3 linked regions of the Homo sapiens genome follow. The protein of the gene in region 2 interacts with the protein of the main gene of each other region in a pairwise test. Each region holds a gene or a part of one and is shown on either strand. Other genes may lie near its edges.

What was found. The genes of interacting proteins can lie anywhere in the genome.
Region 1: the proteins of EDA (region 2) and GIMAP5 interact in binary tests that used the Homo sapiens proteins (3 or more experiments, as listed by UniProt).
Region 3: the proteins of EDA (region 2) and PLN interact in binary tests that used the Homo sapiens proteins (3 or more experiments, as listed by UniProt).

What each region holds. Positions count from the first base shown.
Region 1 is NC_000007.14:150,740,418-150,744,146, reverse strand, and holds the end of GIMAP5 (GTPase IMAP family member 5), read right to left. Parts: intron 3,269-3,729; coding exon of another isoform or gene 3,263-3,268; coding exon 3,220-3,262; intron 1,965-3,219; coding exon 1,084-1,964; 3' UTR 501-1,083; downstream 1-500. Other genes in the region: GIMAP1-GIMAP5 protein, read right to left, coding at 1,084-1,964, 3,220-3,268. UniProt on the Homo sapiens protein: Plays a role in T lymphocyte development and the optimal generation of CD4/CD8 double-positive thymocytes. Inhibitor of GSK3A, possibly by sequestering GSK3A in cytoplasmic vesicles and impairing its translocation to the nucleus.
Region 2 is NC_000023.11:70,032,020-70,039,163, reverse strand, and holds part of EDA (ectodysplasin-A), read right to left. Parts: intron 5,767-7,144; coding exon 5,636-5,766; intron 5,084-5,635; coding exon of another isoform or gene 4,964-5,083; exon of another isoform or gene 4,118-4,963; intron 3,807-4,117; coding exon 3,555-3,806; 3' UTR 1-3,554. UniProt on the Homo sapiens protein: Cytokine which is involved in epithelial-mesenchymal signaling during morphogenesis of ectodermal organs. Functions as a ligand activating the DEATH-domain containing receptors EDAR and EDA2R. May also play a role in cell adhesion.
Region 3 is NC_000006.12:118,551,296-118,558,295, forward strand, and holds part of PLN (phospholamban), read left to right. Parts: intron 1-7,000. UniProt on the Homo sapiens protein: Reversibly inhibits the activity of ATP2A2/SERCA2 in cardiac sarcoplasmic reticulum by decreasing the apparent affinity of the ATPase for Ca(2+).

The DNA.
Region 1 (3,729 bases), on a different chromosome or scaffold from region 2:
CAGGATTGCCTGGTACCCAGTCAACAACCTGTCCCCCACCCCCACCCTGTGGACATTGACTTCCAAAGAAATAGAGCTGGAGAGTTGATCCAAGGACATTTTACAGTGGAGAAGGAGAAAGAGTTTGCTTAACCTTTCTCATGTGTGAACATTTGCCAAAGTGATTCCTTGCAGAGCATTGAAATGTGAGCTGTGTTTCTTTTGGGCCCCTGGCCAAACTGAGAAGAAAGCACAGAGAAAGCCCTGCGTACAGGGCACCCCATTTCCTTGACCCTCTCCCACTCCCATTCGTCAATGCAATCCATCCATCTGAAAGTGTTTTGCTTTACTCAGAGTTCAGGGAATGTCCACTATGTGGCAGGCACTTCAGTAGGAGCAGGAGGTTCTTCCTAATTTTAGGAACAAGAAAAGCCAACCCTGTTCCTTTATTCTAGATGCCACTTGCTCAAAGGAAGCATGTGGACTGGGAAGTTCCAACAGATTTAAAGGATAAAAAGGAATGTGGAGAAATTTTTATTACTTTGAATGTTTTAGAATGCAGGTAGAAGAGACCCGGAGCTCAAATAGCTTAAATAAGTAGGAAATCTATTGGCTAATACAACTGGAAATGCGGAGATAGGGCAGGCTGCAGGGCTGGTGGCTCAGGGCTCAGGGGGCCCCAACTCTCTGTGCTGCTCTGAGGCACTGCCTTCAATCTCAGGTTGGCAGCACAAAGCTGCTGAGAGTCCCAGTGTCACGCCCAGACCCCACAATGCCAGGGAGGAAGACAGGTTCTATCTAAGGAGAGATCTTCCATCCCCACCTCTGCGGACTTTTACTCACTTCTCAGGGACCTGCATGGGATCTCAGGCCCATTCCTGAAGCAGTTGTTGGCAGACAGAGTGGAATAGTGTTTACAGCAGGCAGGCAGCCTTGGAGTGGAGGCACACAGCTCCAAGTCTATCAGGAAGAAGGGGAAATGGGAGCTGCACAGACAGCAAGCAGCATGCTCCATAGACCACGAGGATCTGAGTCTGAATTGGTGATTATTAGAACAATGACTCCATGGGGTGATACATTAGAAGTGCTCCAGGGTCCAGAGATTTAAATGTAATGAAAGATGAACAGAAAAATAATGAAAAAAAGTATGCTGCACAACAATAGAAAAACAAAAATCTCATAATGCAAAAGCATCAAGTGTTTGACTCTGAGGAGCGCCTTGTATGCCCAGTTACTCTCGTTCTCCCTCAGCTCTTGCTTGTGCTTCTCCACCTGCCATTCCACTTTGGCCTGGTACTGCCTGTAGTCTTCCTGGCAGGCCCCAGCTCCAGTTCTTTGGAGCAGCTGGGCATCCAAGAAGAGGTCATTGCTGTGGAAGGAGCCCTCTCGCTCCCTCCCCAGCCTCTCAATCACAGCCAGGAGCTCTGCCTGCTGCTGCCTCTGCTCCTCCACAGAGCCCCAGTTGTTGAAGGCACAGTACCTTCTCTCACACTCCCGCACCAGGTCTTTCAGGCTGCAGTTGTCCGTGTTTGCTACATAGTCATCCAGGGCCTGGCCCCCTAAGTCCTCTTTGTGGGTGAAGAGGATGACCACATGTCTCATGGCCCCTGTCCCAAAGACCTCTTTCACCTTCCTGATGGCCACTGTGTCCTGAGCAGTGAAACGCCCCAGCTGGATCACCAGAAGCAGGACGTGGGGCCCCGGGGCAGAGAGCAGGTAGCAGTCCCCGATGTTCTTGTACAGCTCTTGGGTATCGGCCTGTGACTCAAAGATGGAGGGCGTGTCAACCACCAGGACTTTCCTCCCGTTCCATGTTCCTGTTTTCACCTGGCACGTCCTGGTCACTGACTGGGCCCTCAGCTTGGACTCAAACACGGGCTGGCCAAGGATGCTGTTCCCTGTGGCACTTTTCCCGCAGCCTGTTTTGCCCACTAGGATAATCCTCAATGCCGGTGGTGTTGCAGACAAGTTATCTTCTGATCTACCTGTAGAAAACGAAGTTTTGTATCTTACTAAGTTAATGATTCTTAAGACTGTTAGGTCATTGTTCATGGTTATCTCATGAAAGCTATGAACGTCCTCCCCAGAATGACAGACATATTTATGTGTACATAAAAGTGTGCATACAACTATAGGTGAATCTTGCATGTAGAAAGCCCCATTGGAAGCCCATGCTTGGATCCACAGCCAGGAATTAGAACTGTTGCATTAAGGGGATGCTTTAAGCACTTCATCTGGATTGTGGCAAATAGAGCTTTCCTGAAAGAAAATGGTCCTTGTGTTTTCCCCTGCGTGGTGTTTAGGCCAGCTCCATGGAGAATTATTAGAAAGAGGCAGGGGATTAGTAGTTACAAGTGAGAAAATCCAATTACTTCTCTTTCACCCACACATTTCCAGGCACACTTGTATAGACACACTCCACACATTCATCCAAGTCTTGAGGGTCAAGGAGGTCTCCACTGGCAAATCTATAGTGACCCACTGCCGGGGGTCAGCTGCCTGTCCCTGGGTCTGTGCCCTCTGGATAGGGAGTGAAATGTTTGAAATTGAGATGACATAGGTTGTAGTTAATGTTAGGGCAGCGTCTGGGAGATGACCCTAGGGTGGATGGCTCAAAAAGGTGGAAGATAAGCTCAATAGAAGCATGTGTGTTGAAAAGCTCATCTATGTGGCTGATTGAAGCACACAAAATTATAGCAGAAGTGGTGTTGGAGAGGGTGACACTGTGGCAGGAGCGAAAATCTTCAGGCACGAAGAGGGGAGAACCTGTGGATTTCTAGAGCCCAAATGAATTCGAAGTGCATTTTAGGCTCTTAAAAATCTATTATTTTATTTCTCCCACTCTGGGTTGGTTCTTCGTTTTCTTAAGTTATTCTGTGGTGTTTTGTAGCAAGCACAATGACTAAATCCCTATGGGGACCTTTTCTTTTTGAGCTGTCAGCAGACAAAGAAAGAGAAAACATATTCACCATTTGCTTCCAGACCCTTCAACCTATGACTTGGTTTCCTTTCCACATTTCCCACATACCTGATGCAGGGAGAGCATCACACTATGGTGTGTGTGTGTGTCTGTGTGTGTGTGTGATGGTTTGATAACACACACGTGATGATAGTTGCCTTTATCTTCTTCATTTAAAATGAATGGGTTTCTGCCACTGTGTTTTAGATGGGGGTAGATGGGGAGAGAATTGTGATTCTCCCAAGTGTCTGGGGCTCTTGAGAACTTCAAGACTTTCTTACCTTCAGCCATAGTTCCATATTTGCCCCTCTGGAATCCTCCCATTCTCTCCTGGAATAAAAACAGGAAAAGGATAAAAAGCAGATGTACGTTTGGGAGCTGGTAGAGCCTGAGGGCACCTCAATTCAGACATCTAAGAATAATCATTCTCAAATGAGCCATTTCCATCCCTAATTTTCTAACTCATACTTTACTTTGAAACATCTGTAAATAACTTTAAACAAAGCAGGTGATGTTAGATGTTAGGTTATGCTAAAATAGTGCACGATTACTTCCCTCCCCTCAACTTACAGAAAATCAGGAAATATTTTGAAGCAAATCAGTTGATTATCTCCCCCAACCAGAAAGGCATGAAATGGAGAAAGCATTCTTCTATGGAACAAAGAGTAGGCATTAAAAAAATTGAAATTAAAGTAACAAACTTACCAGAATAGAGAAAAAAAAATTGCCTTGCTGTAAATAAGATTGGTTTATTTGAAGTAGTGGAAACTTCCAGTCCCAGAAAGTCTTTG
Region 2 (7,144 bases):
CAGGGATGGGTCCTGAGGCAGCATTACAGTAGCCTAAGGACTTGCTGGCACTGGGCCAGTCTTGTGCTTTCCAGTCCAGAGGCTAGAGCTGGGAGAATGCCTTGGGAGGAGGAAGAGTTCTGATGAAGGCTGCAGCTACTCTCTCCCTGCCTGGCCAGGCTCCTGAAGGGGGCCAAGTACTTCCAGCCTGGAGTTTGTGGGTGGAAGAAAGAAGATGGCCATGTGGGACAGGAACTGCTTTACCCCCTCACTCTGCTGAGTCTGGAGGTTGGTGCTTGCTCACCACTTGGGGCAGGTCATCTTCCCTCTCTGGGCCTCAGTTTCTACATAAGTAACAGGGTGGAATGTAGGTTGGGCTAGATTCCCTCTAAGGGCCTTTTTAGCTCTAAATTTCTCTGAATCTATTTGCATCCACAGGAAGTTACATAAACACATACACTCATACATGGATCAAAGTCTTTGTTTACCTCCAGGGTTCCTAGCTCTTTCCTGTTCAGCAAAAGAAATTTGGCTCAGGATGGATGAAGGGGGAAATAGGCAAATACTACTTCTCCAGGTAACCAGTAGCCGAGCAGCCTCCGCCAGCTGTCTTTTGTGCCAGCTTGGCTGTTGAAGCCCAAGTAACTGGCAGAGACTCCTGCCATGCCATTCTCCTTCAAACCTCTGTCATCTGCTTGCCCACAAATGTCCTCGTCCCATTCTCCATGCAAGCATTGGTCCTCTGGCAAATTCACACCAACATAATTCCAAACTGCACATCTATTTCCACATTCTCTCATCAGTAAATTGCTTTGTCACTTTGCCAATGACTTAGCAGCAATAGGGCTCCCCAGCTACCTATTGCTTCCCTCATCATCCCTCGCCCTCTAGAGTTCCTTTGGAGGGTTCAGAATGAATCAAGGGTCCAGTGGAGATCCTATTTCCTTTATCATCCCCTCCATGTCTGGAGAATAGAATGGTATCAGGATGCTCTTTAGGGGCACAATTAGGAAGACTTTTCCTCCTCTCTCCTCACACCTTTCTGGCCTCAGAACCAGTCCTCTCTTTCAGGTCTTCCCTCCATCCCTGAGAGACCCTGGTAGTATCAAAGTCTCTAAGGTATGGTGGAAAGAGATAAGGAGTCACACTAGTAGTTGTGGGAAGCAGGCTGGCTCCTGTAAGCTGTCTGTAGGGTAATGAAAGGAGGACTTTGCCCACAGTAGGGGCTCTACACATGATGGTTGGCTGGTTCCTAGGATGGGTGAAAGAACATAAAGGCCACAAGTTCTGTGGGTCCCAGAGGCCTGCTGCTCCAACATTGTGCCAGGAAGATTCTTCTGAACACAAGAGCTCTAAGGCTGTTCGCTGTTTTCCAAAGAAATGTCTGACTCTTTTTGCCACAGAGCCCCTGGCAGCCGAGAGGACGGGTATTACCATCGAGGAATGAAATCAGGCATCTCTGGGTTTCTCCCCGGAACTCTCAAGGATTTCAGTTCCCAATTACCACTTTTATTGGTTCTCTCTAGACCTCAAATTCCACACAATGCTGTGGTGTAATGGAACAGCTTTGGAGTCAGACCTGGCTGAAGCTCCAGGTCTGCGGCTTAAACTGGTCAAAACACTCTGAGAGTGCTACCTCTCTGAGCCTCATCTAAACAATGATGTTTGTCATATTATCAGCCTTGCCTTCTTCAAAGGAGATAATACAAGAGAAATTATTTTCCAAACATGAAGGAGTGGTTCTTGTTGGTTTCTGCTACAACTGCGGACTGTCCGAGGCACTTTATAGGAGTTAGGGCCAGACACATGCCTGGAGTTCACCTCACCTTGGGTTGCAAGGCTGTCATTAGCAACCAGACAACGGAGGCCTAGCCCATCACGTCTCACCCTGACCCTTGAAGGGCCAAGCAGTGTGGTTGCTTAGAAAGGGAAGGCACAGCTGAGAAATAAGTACCCGCTGTTCTTGGTGAATTTCAGCTGCCTGAAGGAAATTATTCCCCATCTCCTGAAAAGGAAACACATTTCAGGAACAAGAGGAGCAGACTGTACAAGGCTGGCCTTCCCAGGTTTGGGCTGGATCTAGCACCCAGAAACCAGGCTGAGCCCAGGCACTTTGAAGTAAGGCTCTCGAGGGTCCTACCATATGATCTGTTGGGAAGCTTGGGGTTTAGGGGAAGGTGAATTTGGACCTGAACTAGGGGGCAGATCCCTGCTCAGTGCCTAGACACTGGCTTCTCCTGAGCCTGGCTTTAGGGGAGCAGCATGAGCACCTGCGGTGACAATGCTCTGCTGTGGCTTTTTGAAGCCAGAGTGAAGAAAGACTGGGTTAGTACAGCATCAGCTGCTGGCCTTTCAGATAAGGCCTGGCCTAACGTCCACTTGGGTTGCAGCAAACTTGAACAAAATCCCTCTGTCCTATCCTCACCCCTTGCCCTTTCTAGGCCAGGTAAAAAGGCTCTGCCTTGCTAATGCCCAGGAGCAGTCTAGGATTTGGGAATTTAGAAGGCTGTGGTGAGGGCTAAGAGTCACAGGTACTAGAAATTGAAGGGACTTCTGGAGGTCATCCCGTCCAACCCTTCGTCCCCAGACAGAATTTGATTAGGAATGGATGAAAAACATTTGTACTGCTTAATAAATGGAAAATTCTGTTTGTGCCCAGGTAAGCTAAAGAATATCCCAGACTCACATGACCACAGGTCCCAGGTTAGGCACCTGTCTCAGACAGAGGTAGGCTCCATGGAGAAAGAAGACAGGAGTTCTAGTCAGGCTGGGAATGGGGGCAACTAGAAGGTGACCCCAGGGAATTTTCTGAGTGTGGAGCACAGCTGTAAATAAAATGAGAGTCATGTGACCCAAGTACGGATTCAGGGTCTTAGGCGGGCAGGTTTGTGGCCATTCCCTGTGATTGTTCCAAAGCACAGCAAACTTCCCAAAGCCCAGCAAGCTGCCACGGTGTGGCTGTCAGCTGGAGTGGGAAGAGCACTCCAACCCTCCTGCAGGCCACAGTATAGAGCAGAAAGAACATTCCCACTGCCAAGGATGCTCCTTGGCAGGTTTCTCTTATGGTCTCTGCCAAAAGCACCTGCCTTTTCCCTCTCTGGCCTTCTTCTTAGGCTGCAATGCTCCCTTCCCACTCCACCCCAGCCACTACCCTACCCAAGAGAGGAGCAGCAGCCCCCTTGGGGTCAGATGTCCACCCCCAGAGTCTGGAGTGCACCTTTGCTTTCTCTGGCCTGCTGCCCTGGATCCTCATTTTAGTGCAACAAACAATAGATCTGACAACAGGGACCTCGGGGTTGAAGAGTCATGCCATAAGTCAGTCAACATGGAACCAAAGAAGGTTCTGCTTCATGTAAACCCTGGGGCTCCATCAACTGTCCTGTTAACTCAAGGTCATTCTGGAAAGTCAAGCAGGCCTTGTCACCCTGGAGTCACTGGGGAATAAATAACACTGGGGCATTTCTCTGCGGCTGCAACACCAATACACCTCACTCCACAGCAGCACTTAGAGGTTCTGGGAGTCCTGGCTCCCAAACCCAGGGAAGGGGCACGGACAGAGGCAAAATGGGGGGAATCTAGGATGCAGGGGCTTCACCCAGCCTGATGGCCCCAAAGAACGTGGTGTGCTTGCTCATGTTGATGGAGATGTCAGCGTGCACCATCTTGACGGCGATCTTCTGCCGGGCCTTGAGGAGGCAGACGCCTGCGGTATAGCAAGTGTTGTAGTTGGTCTTGCCCGTCTCGATGCTGCGTGTGCACTGCAGGAAGGGCTTCTCATCCACCACCACCTCATAGCTGGCAAAGTCAGTGAAGTTGATGTAGTATACCTGAGTGAGAGGCAACAAGAAGGGATTGGGGAAGAGAGGAAAGAGAGGGTGGGGGGCCCTCCCTGTGGTGAATTGACAGAATCTTCTCAGATGAGCTGTTAGTATACCCCATGGATGGGGCAGTGCCATGTGAAGGCGTGCTAGCTGGCCAACAGGAAAGGACAGGTGACAGGCATTGTTCTTCCCCTAGTCCATGGGGCTCAGCTGGCTGAGCAAACTTTTCTTACAACAGCACACTTGTCGCAAACTCTGTAAGGCTAAGAACCATGCCCTATTTGCAGCTTCACCGTGCCCCTGTTCCCCCGCCCACCCCTGCCCCAGCCCTGACATGAAGCAGAGTGCTCTGCACGTAGCAGGTGTGTACACAGTGCCGTGGACACAAACTGACTTCCATTCTTGAGCCCCACGGACTATTTGTGGAGAAACTTAGAAGTCACTGATTCCCCAGAGAGGGCATGTAACAACTTGTGATTTCTTGAGCTCCTTAACAGAAGCTTATTCAGCTTGCACCACCCCTCCCCTGGGCCTGGACTCCCCTCACTGATTCACAGTGCCCCTTGGGCCTCCCATCTGATGATTGAGGAAACAGGTCCAGAGAGATCGAGAGCTAGCTACCACAAACAAGACAAAGAATTTGGAAAAGCCCAGGCCCCTAACTTTGTGGCCAGAAGGAAGCACTAACTTATGCTCAGTGGCCTAATGTCATGGGGATTTTCCCAGCCTGCATGGGCCACTCTCAATTCTCTCCTAGGCTCAGAAAATTAATTTTTCCATCCTTCACTACCCTTATCCATCATACCTCACACCAAGTTTTGATCTGCCGCCCACCCCCACCACGTGGAACTTGGCTCACAGGACATCAGGGTTATGCCCATGTGCCCCATGGGTGTTGGGACTCTCAGATATCACCGTAAATCATTTTATGAAAGGTCACTCCCTCTATCAGCTCTTCAGGTGGGAACAGCATATTTGGGTGCCATATACGGGTCAGGACCCAAGCTACAGCGGGGTGCTCAGTGTGCCTAGCAGATGCTTGTTAGCCCACCTTCTCTGGCCGCTCTCATGTGACACCCATCTGTTGGCTCCATAGTCCTTCTGTCCACCTGCCTGCTTGCTGCCCATCCCACAAAAATCCCAACCTCATGGCTCATCTTCCTTTATCTCCAAGGAGCCACTCCCATGGAGGCAAACAATGGGGGAACGGAAGTAGATGGACACTGGTGGACTTGGGGAGCGGGCCCAGGGCAGGAAGAGGACAAAAGCAGAGGGAGAAAGGGCTGGGAGAATGACAGCAGGAAGGAGGCAAGAATAGAGGAATAGAAAGATAGGGAAACAAATGGGAGAAAGAGGAAGGAAAGACAGTCAGAAATCTTTTTGAGGTGGAAAGAAAGTCTGCAGGAGCACTATTCATTACAACGTCCGAGCCAGCAGTGTTGAGGGAAAGGGTTCTCAGTAACCCTGGAACTGACTTTCAAAGAATGTACTGAGACCAAGTTCAAGTTTGGCAGTGCAGCCAAACAGCTCAGAGGGTAAACAGGGGCCTGAGGCCCTGCAGGAGGGAATCAGATGGCAGGGTGTGGGAGGGGTCTTTTTCACAGTTTTTCAATAATATTTGGCTAAGGAAAAACAAAACAAAACAAAACAAAAGAAGCTGGCCCCCTCTCTCTTTCCTCCTTTCAACTCCCTCCCAGTGCGGTCCCCCCACCCCCTCACCCAAAGCAGGAAGTTAGCCATTGGATGGTCTTGGCTGGCTCCACAGTGCCCCTATGTGGCCTGCACCGGATCTGCATTCTGGATATAAGAAGAGTTAGGCCTAAGACCGTACTCACTTCTACCTGACTATAGATGAAGTAGGTGCCGTCCACCAGTACCTCCAGCTCCCCGCTGCGGGGATGTAGCTTAAACACCTTGGGGTTCATAGTGATGCGAGACCAGTCATTGAGCACTCCACCTGAAAGATCTCAGTATGAGAGAAGGGCAGTCACTCAGTACATGTCAGAATAATCGAGGCAACAGAAAATAAATACCAAGGAGTTCACAACCCCCACCCCTATCCCAGTGCAACCAGGGTAGCCTAGAAGGCCAAACTTTAAGAAGAGCATTTGAAAGCAGAGAAGCTGTTCTGTTTGTAAAGCAGCTGCCAGGCCTGCTTCAGGGCTCCTGGGCTCTGCCTGTCTGTCTTTATCCTTCCTTTCTTGACCCTTGCATCTGGAAGGGTCTTTAACCAATACCTTCTAGCTGGAATTTGCCGGTGGAGGATGAGAGTGGGCATGCTGCCCTATTTTCTTTGTTGTTATGGGGCCTGCACAGGCAAAATTCAGACACTGAGTGGCAGGCTAGGTCTTATTATTCAATTTTACTTTCCCAGCCAGAGCTCCTGAATCCCTCTCATCTCATAGGTTCATGGGTTTTCTCTTTCTCCTTAAGAGATTCTTTTTTACGGTTCTTCCACACCCACAGCTTTCTGGAAAGCCTCCCTGGGAGGAAACCACTCAGCCCACTGTCTATCTGGAGAACCTTAGGGATTAGAGATGATTCAGACTCCATGGTAACTGGGGCTACTGACCACTAGTACCAGGGCCCCATAGGTGAGAGGGATCCTTATGAGAGTGAAGGATAGACTGGCAGGCTGCAATAGAGCCAGCTGGGAGGATAGGAGCCGAGCCACCCTTGGCAAAGCATCTGTCTCAGCCCCACCCCAGGCAGGGGTGGAGGGGGCAGTCACACTCCTTTGGACAGCGGAAGCCAGTGTGTGAGGATGGAGGAAAAACTTCTCTTTCCATCCTGCAGAAAGAGGAATGTTCCTTCCCACCATGAGAGGAGGACATCCAAGCCCAGGGAGCCTTTTCCCCTCTAAGCCATCCATCCTGCACCCAAGAAATTATATTTTATAAGTCCATCTTTGGCCAGTTTCAGTAGGCCTGCCTGTCTGAGGGGTGAGGAAACAGCCTTTCTGGAAAAGGTGACCATCTTTCCTTGAGGTGGTAAGTAGATGGGCTAGGAGCTGCCCTGGCTCTGTCCCATCAATGGACCACTCTGCATGACGTCCTCCAACCCCTGACCCCATCACTTCTTCTTCTTTTTTTTTTTTTTCTGAGATGGACTGTCACTCACTCTGTCACCAAGGCTGGAGTGCAGTGGTGTGATCTTGGCTCACTGCAACCTCCACCTCCCGGGTTCAAGTGATTCTCCTGCCTCAGCCTCCCGAGCAGCTGGGATTACAGGTGTGTGCCACTATGCCCAGCTAATTTTTGTATTTTTTGTGGAGACGGGGTTTCACCATGTTGGCCAGGCTGGTCTCAAACTTTTGGCCTCATGTGATCCGCCAGCCTCGGCCT
Region 3 (7,000 bases), on a different chromosome or scaffold from region 2:
ACTCCATCTTTAGTTTTCAACCCCCAACCCCCGCACAAAAAAAAAGGTTGACTAACTCACTCACATTAATAGGGGGTATATTTATTAAGTGGCATTCATTTTAAATCCTTAAGACTTTCTCAATACTACCTCCCCATATTCTCTTCCCCCAGAAAAGATTCTGAATTTCCAACTCCTACAGGGTTAAGAAGAATATTTTACTTGTAAATACACTTGTAAAGCATTGTTTCAATATTTAAAAAACAATAATGAAGGCAAACCTACAGACAATATAGCAACAGCAATAAGCTAAATTGTCAGTTTTAGAGAGAAAAATATCTCTGTGCTGTTGTTTAATGAATTCTCCTCAAGACAGAGCTTTAACATGAGAAGCACTTCATTATGGGTCAATTTAGGAATGAGAATATATTGATTTTTATGCATATACAATTATTTTCATAACCAGACAGAAGCAGCTTGAAGATTCTTTCAAACAGCCAGTCTGGACCAACAAAGCTCTGGAATGTTGCTACCACAAAGTAACTTCAAATAGAATGTCCAAGTTTAGTATTAGGCAATCTCAAAAGGAAAATGACTCCACTGGAGTGAACTTTTGTAAGCCAACAGATTCATCGTAAATCTAATGATGAACTGTCCTAATTTATTACCACAAGTCCAAAAAAGGGTATATGCACATTCACTTATGGCTTATCAGTGGAAATGTCAGAAAGTAGTAGAAAAATAAAATTCCAAACAATCCAAATATAGACAAGTCCTGTTTATTCAATCTATAGAAAATTCTAATCTTCTAAACCAATTAGATGGAAAAAACATCCTAGAGTATATCAGACTGTAGCCTTAGATATTACTTGAATTCAATTTAATAAAGTATTTCTTCAGTACTCCCATGTTTACTAAAAGAATAAACAAAATTAAAAGGAGAAAAGCAAAATTCTAAATTCTACAAACATAAAGAATCCCAGGAATTTATTATTTCAGCAAAAGGAATACCACCAAAAATACTGAAGTTTGAGAAGTTCTGCAAGAAGTGAACATACTTAAAGTATAGATGGAGATTAATGCTCAGCATATACAACATCATTAAAGTATCAATTGTCTAGCAAGTCATAAAGCAGGCCACCAAAAGTTTTCAGAAGACTATTGAGGTTCCTTCCGCACAAGAATGCATCTGATATTACATTGCTAAAACAGGACTCACTGCAGACAAAGTAAGGACTCCTGAAGGAGTTGATATATAGTAGCTTCCACCAAACATGTTGCCTAACATGGTATATGACATTAGTCAAAAGATTAGAGTTGCCTAATGGCTTTTCTATTTCCTTCTTCCACCTCAAAAAAAAAACCAGAATACCATCTTGAACTTGATTTTTTTTTTAATTTCCAGCGTTACTTTTCTTGAGGAAAGGACGACAACCAAAGGATTTATAAATCCCACAAAGAATAGTAAAGAATTCTTTATTTTTATTCTTCTCATTCCCCTAAAAAGTAGAGTAATCATGGATCCACAGACATAAGATACTCTGTGGATACTTTCCTGCCTCTGACATGTAACTCAAGAGACAGGAGTCTGGCATTTCTACACCCAAACTCCTAACAAGCACCTTTCATGTTTTCAATACTCTTGATTCTAGGGCCTAGAAGACAATTTGATTTTAAAATTCATCTATAAATGAATACCACTCTTGTGTCAAAACAACCAATTTATATATATTGTCATTCTTTTAATAAAAGGGTGGAGAGCAGCTTCAGTTTCCATGGTTGTTTAGGCCATATACAAGTTCAGAAAATCCCAAAACTATTTATGATTAGACTAACAGAATGCTCTAAAAAGATCAGATAACATGAAAATAAAACTAAACTATTTTTGTATGCTTTCCATCGAAAAAGTACTCTATTAAACAGCTTAGCTGTTAAGAAATTAAAAAAAAAAAAAAAAAGGAAACTCATACAGTGGTTGTCAGTGCAGAGAAGAGAATGATAAACATCTGACAACCATGCCATAAATTATAATGTAGTAAAGGTCACAGACAACTCCAAAAATAGGATTCTGCTGTTCCCACAACAAAGGTTTTCAATTCTCAATGTATGACAGGAAGCCCCATCTTCTATGGATAAAATCTGGCCTAATTATCATCATACAAATGTTGGTATTCAGTAGAACTAGGATTCCACACATTTCAGATGATAACTGTAAAAAATTGAGCCCAATAAATTAAATGTATATCATTAACATTTTAGCGTGTAAAGCAGATTTAAGTTTAGGCATAAAATCATAAAGTAGTTACAAATAACTTTAGGATTATGGCATATTTCTAAATCTGACAAGAAACAGGATACTATTTTTGGTCATCTCCTTTACACCCAATTTGTTTCCAGAAACAAACTCTTCTTTTTCAATAACAGTTAGCTGTTGTAGGATTATAAGATCATCTTTAAAGTATGTTAACTATGCTTTAAACAGTAAAGAGCTCATCTCTTTAGGGCATATCTCTGTATTTCACAAATACTAAAAACCCATTTATACAAAGCCTAGTTCAGGTTAATACTGTGTTAATCAGGTAACCATTAATTTAGGTGAATCCTCTAAGCCTCATTTTTCTCACCTGTGATAGAAAGAGACTTGAGGAAAATATTAGAGCTTACATGTCCAACTAACAAATTGTTATTAGAACTAGTTAATCTGTCAATCACAGCATTATTTTTAAAATTGTTTAACTTATTATTAAAAATGAGGGCCAGGCATGGTCATTCACACTTGTAATCCCAGGAATTACCTGAGCTCAGGAGTTTGAGACCAGCCTGTGCAGCACAGTGAAACCCTGTCCCTACCAAAAATACAAAAATTAGCCAGGCATGGTGGCGCACACCTGTGGTCTCAGCTACTCAGGAGGCTGAGGCAGGGAGATCGCTAGAGCCTGGGAAGTTGAGGTGCAGTGAGCCACGATTGCACAACTGCACTCCAGCCTGGGTGACAGAGCAAGACCCTGTCAGTCATTCATTCATCCATTCATAAAAACAATTAATTAATTAAAAATGAGATGGGGTCTCATTATGTTGCCCAAGCTGGTCTCGAACTCCTGGGCTCAAACATTCGTCCCGCCTAGGCCTTCCAAAGTGTTGGAATTATAGATGTGAGCCACCATGCCCTGCCCACAGCATTATTTTTAATTAACAATTTTCTAATAGTTTTAGTCATAAAAATCCCTTATTTAACTTTAGTGATTTATTGAAGCATACCAATTATGCACTAAGTACTAGGATACTAAATAAACACACAGTTTCTTTACTTCAGAAACTATCAGTCTAGCTGGGGATACAAACATGTAAATTGAAATTGTGCTATAATCTGACAGATATCCTCATATAGATAACACTAAAGCCCTATTAAAAACCAGTAGAGGTGACAACCAATTCCACCTTAATAACTAATGAAAGGTTTCACTAGGAAGTGATATTTAAACTGAACCTTAAGAATCAACTGAAGCTTGCATGGCAGACAATCAAAAGGTGGAGAACACATTCCAGGCAGAGATAGAACAACATGTGCAAAGAACAAAATCACAAAAGGGAATGGAGTATTTATGGAAAGGTGACATGTTTCATGTGACTGAAGTACAACTTACCAGTGTCAACGTAGGGGATGACTCCTGTATATGCTTCATGATAAACTCCTGGCCAACTCCCTCCTTTCCCATGTTTTGTCTCAAAATAATTTTTAAAATTTCTGACCTTTTAAGACCACTTAAGCCCAAAAACCTCACAAAACCATATGTTCAAATAGGAATTACCAAGTCTAATTATTATTCCTTTCTTAACTGTATTCTGCTACACATCTTCATAAAAGGTGACTACTCGGCCAGGTGCAGTGGCTCACGCCTGCAATCCCAGCACTTTGGGAGGCCGAGGCGGGTGGATCACGAGGTCGGGAGATCGAGACCATCCTGGCTAACATGGTGAAACCCCGTCTCTACTAAAAACACAAAAAAATTAGGCATGGTGGCGGGCACCTGTAGTCCCAGCTACTCGGGAGGCTAAGGCAGGAGAATGGCGTGAACCCGGGAGGTGGAGCTTGCAGTGAGCCGAGATCGTGCCACTGCACTCCAGCCTGGGCAACACAGCAAGACTGTCTCAAAAAAAAAAAAAAAAAGTGACTACTCAAATATAAATAAAATCTTCCCATAATTTTCCAATCCACTAGATCTACAATAAGCAAATATCAACATAAGCAAATATCAACATAAGCAACTTAAAGGATGAATCTCAATAAAGAACAAAAGAAAATCTATTTATATTTTACCTGAAGAATTCAAACAAAAGTCATTAAATATATGTCAAGTTTAAGCTGCTATGTCCCTTATTTTTAACTTTTGTTTTAAGTTTGGGGGTATGTGTGAAGGTTTGTTACACAGGTAAACACATGTCATGGGGAGCTTGTTGTATGTATTACTTCATCATCCCGTTATTAAGCCCAGTACCCAACAGTTTTCTGCTCCTCTGCCTCCTCCCATCCTCCCCGCTCAAGTAGACCCCAGCGTCTGTTGTTTCCTTCTTTGTGTTCATAAGTTCTTATCATCTTGCTCCCACCTGTAAGTGAGAACCTGTGGTATTTGGTTTTCTTTTCCTATGTTAGTTTGCTAGGGATAATGACCTCCAGCTCCATCCATGTTCCCGCAAAAGACATGATATCATTCTTTTTTATGGCTGCATAGTATTGCATGGTGTATATGTACCACATTTTCTTTATCCAGTCTGTCACTGATGAGCACTTAGGCCGGTTCATGTCTTTGCTATTGTGAATAGTGCTGCAATGAATATTCATGGGTGTATGTCTTTACGGCAGAAAGATTTACACTCCTCTGGATATATACCCAGTAATGGGATTGTTGGGTCGAATGGTAGTTCTGCTTTTATAAGCTGCTATTTTCTAAGTAGAAGTGTTATAGACAACCTAAATAACAGCCTTTAGCCACCTGTTTAGACAATGAAGAATATATGCTAGAAAAATACAGGTAGTTAATAACTCTTTAAGGAAAGAAAATTTGATAGAAGTTGAGTGTTTGGAACTCCTTGCTACAGACCAATATTATGAAGGGGGACAGAGTCTCAAGCCAAAAATGCCCAGTCTACTATATAATTCAGAATATAATAGACCCAAGTTGAACACTACAGAATCTAAACACCATAAACCATATGGTTTCTTTGCCAAAGTAAATGCCGGGTTCTAACTAGTCATGCCTGATACTTACCTTCCCCTTTGCCATTCTTTCAGCACTTCCTTCTGCTCCCTTCAGCACTTTCCTCTCTCAGGAATGGGCTAACAGGTTGAGATGGGCTTTTATGGGATGTATAAAAGGACTTAGGAGAAAATAAAATCTGACACCTGGGGTAAGGTAGTAATATGTTGATTAACAATAATATATCAACAAATGTTAACAGTCACTATGTCTGGCAGTTAATTACTGACTTTTTTTCTCCGTTTTTCATTTTTCTTATTTCAAAATTGACACATAAGTATACTGATTGAAAACAAAATGTCCCCAAGTGTTAATAACGATTATCTCTGGACAGTTAATACAGTTAATTTTCAGTCTATATATAATTTTTCTGTAATGACATGTAAATTCTTATTTTATTAATCATCAAAGTATAGGCCCCACAGGCAGCAATAGCTTGTGGGATCTCTGAAAGAAGGCATGATGGAAACTACTACTATTAAGTAGAAGTCTGTAAATAGGATATGTCTGTGGTAGTGAGATAATAATAATTACTATGTGTTCCAAGCTTGACAGTCTTCAGTACTTAACATCAAATCTTATTAAAATGTTACTTAAGATAACATTCTATAAAACTATAAAATCATAAAAAGGAATAACAATTTGAATCTATATTTTTGGTAAAACACTTCCCATTTAACACTATTTTATTTTAGATTAAAATTAAGATCCAGGGAACAATTTGTTGTATGCATTTCCTTTTTATGAGATTGGCTCTGGAGCTATTAATACAGTGACTGATCAAACCAATTACATCTACAGAGTAACAGATTTAAAGAAACTATATGTTAGAACTTTTACCCAAAAGAATAACCCAAAACAAGCTGTACCTTAAACCAAATACAGCAGGTCCTCAAATAACATCATTTCTATGTCATTTTGTTATAACATTTAAGTATGTGTGGGGCTTGCATATTCTCCCCACATCTGTGGGACTCTGGTTTCCTCCCATATCCCAAAACAGTGCACATTAGGTTCACTGGCATGTTTAAGTTGTCCTGGGTTGAGTGTGAGTGTGTACATGAGTGTATCCTGTGATGGAGTGGCCTCCTATCCAAGGTGGGTTCCTCCCTCCTTGAGCTGCTGGGATTGGCTCCAGCCACCAGCACCCCAAACCAGAATAAGAGGGTTGAAAAATGAATGAATGGATGAATACAAATTATTATCGAATAAAAATTGGTAAAGTCTACGGTGATCATACAAATGCATGACAATAAACGCTATGGCACAAAAGCACTCAGAGATCCCACCGTATTTGAATTGTTTTTGATCTGCATGGAGCTGGATGTGCTCCTGACAATTTTCATTTCTCAAACATGATTCCATGTTTTTAATAGACCACCACAACCACTGTTACTCACTGATTCACCAAATACTGGGTAATTATCTTTGTTGGCTTTTTTTTTTTTTTCCTGGGACAGAGTTTTGCTCTGTCACCCAGGCTGGAGTACAGTGGCATGATCTGGGCTCAATGCAACCCCTGCCTCCTGGGCTCCAGCGATCCTCCCAAGTAGCTAGGATTACAGGCACATGCCACCAGCCTAGCTAATTTTTATATTTTTAGTAGAGACAGGGTTTCACCATGTTGGCCAGGCTGGTCTCAAACTCCTGACCTCAGGGGAACTGCCCGCCTTGGCCTCCCAAAGTGCTGGGATTACAGGCATGAGCCACTGCACCTGGCCTATCTGGTTTTTATTAATCTTTCTTAAATGTATACATAGTTCATA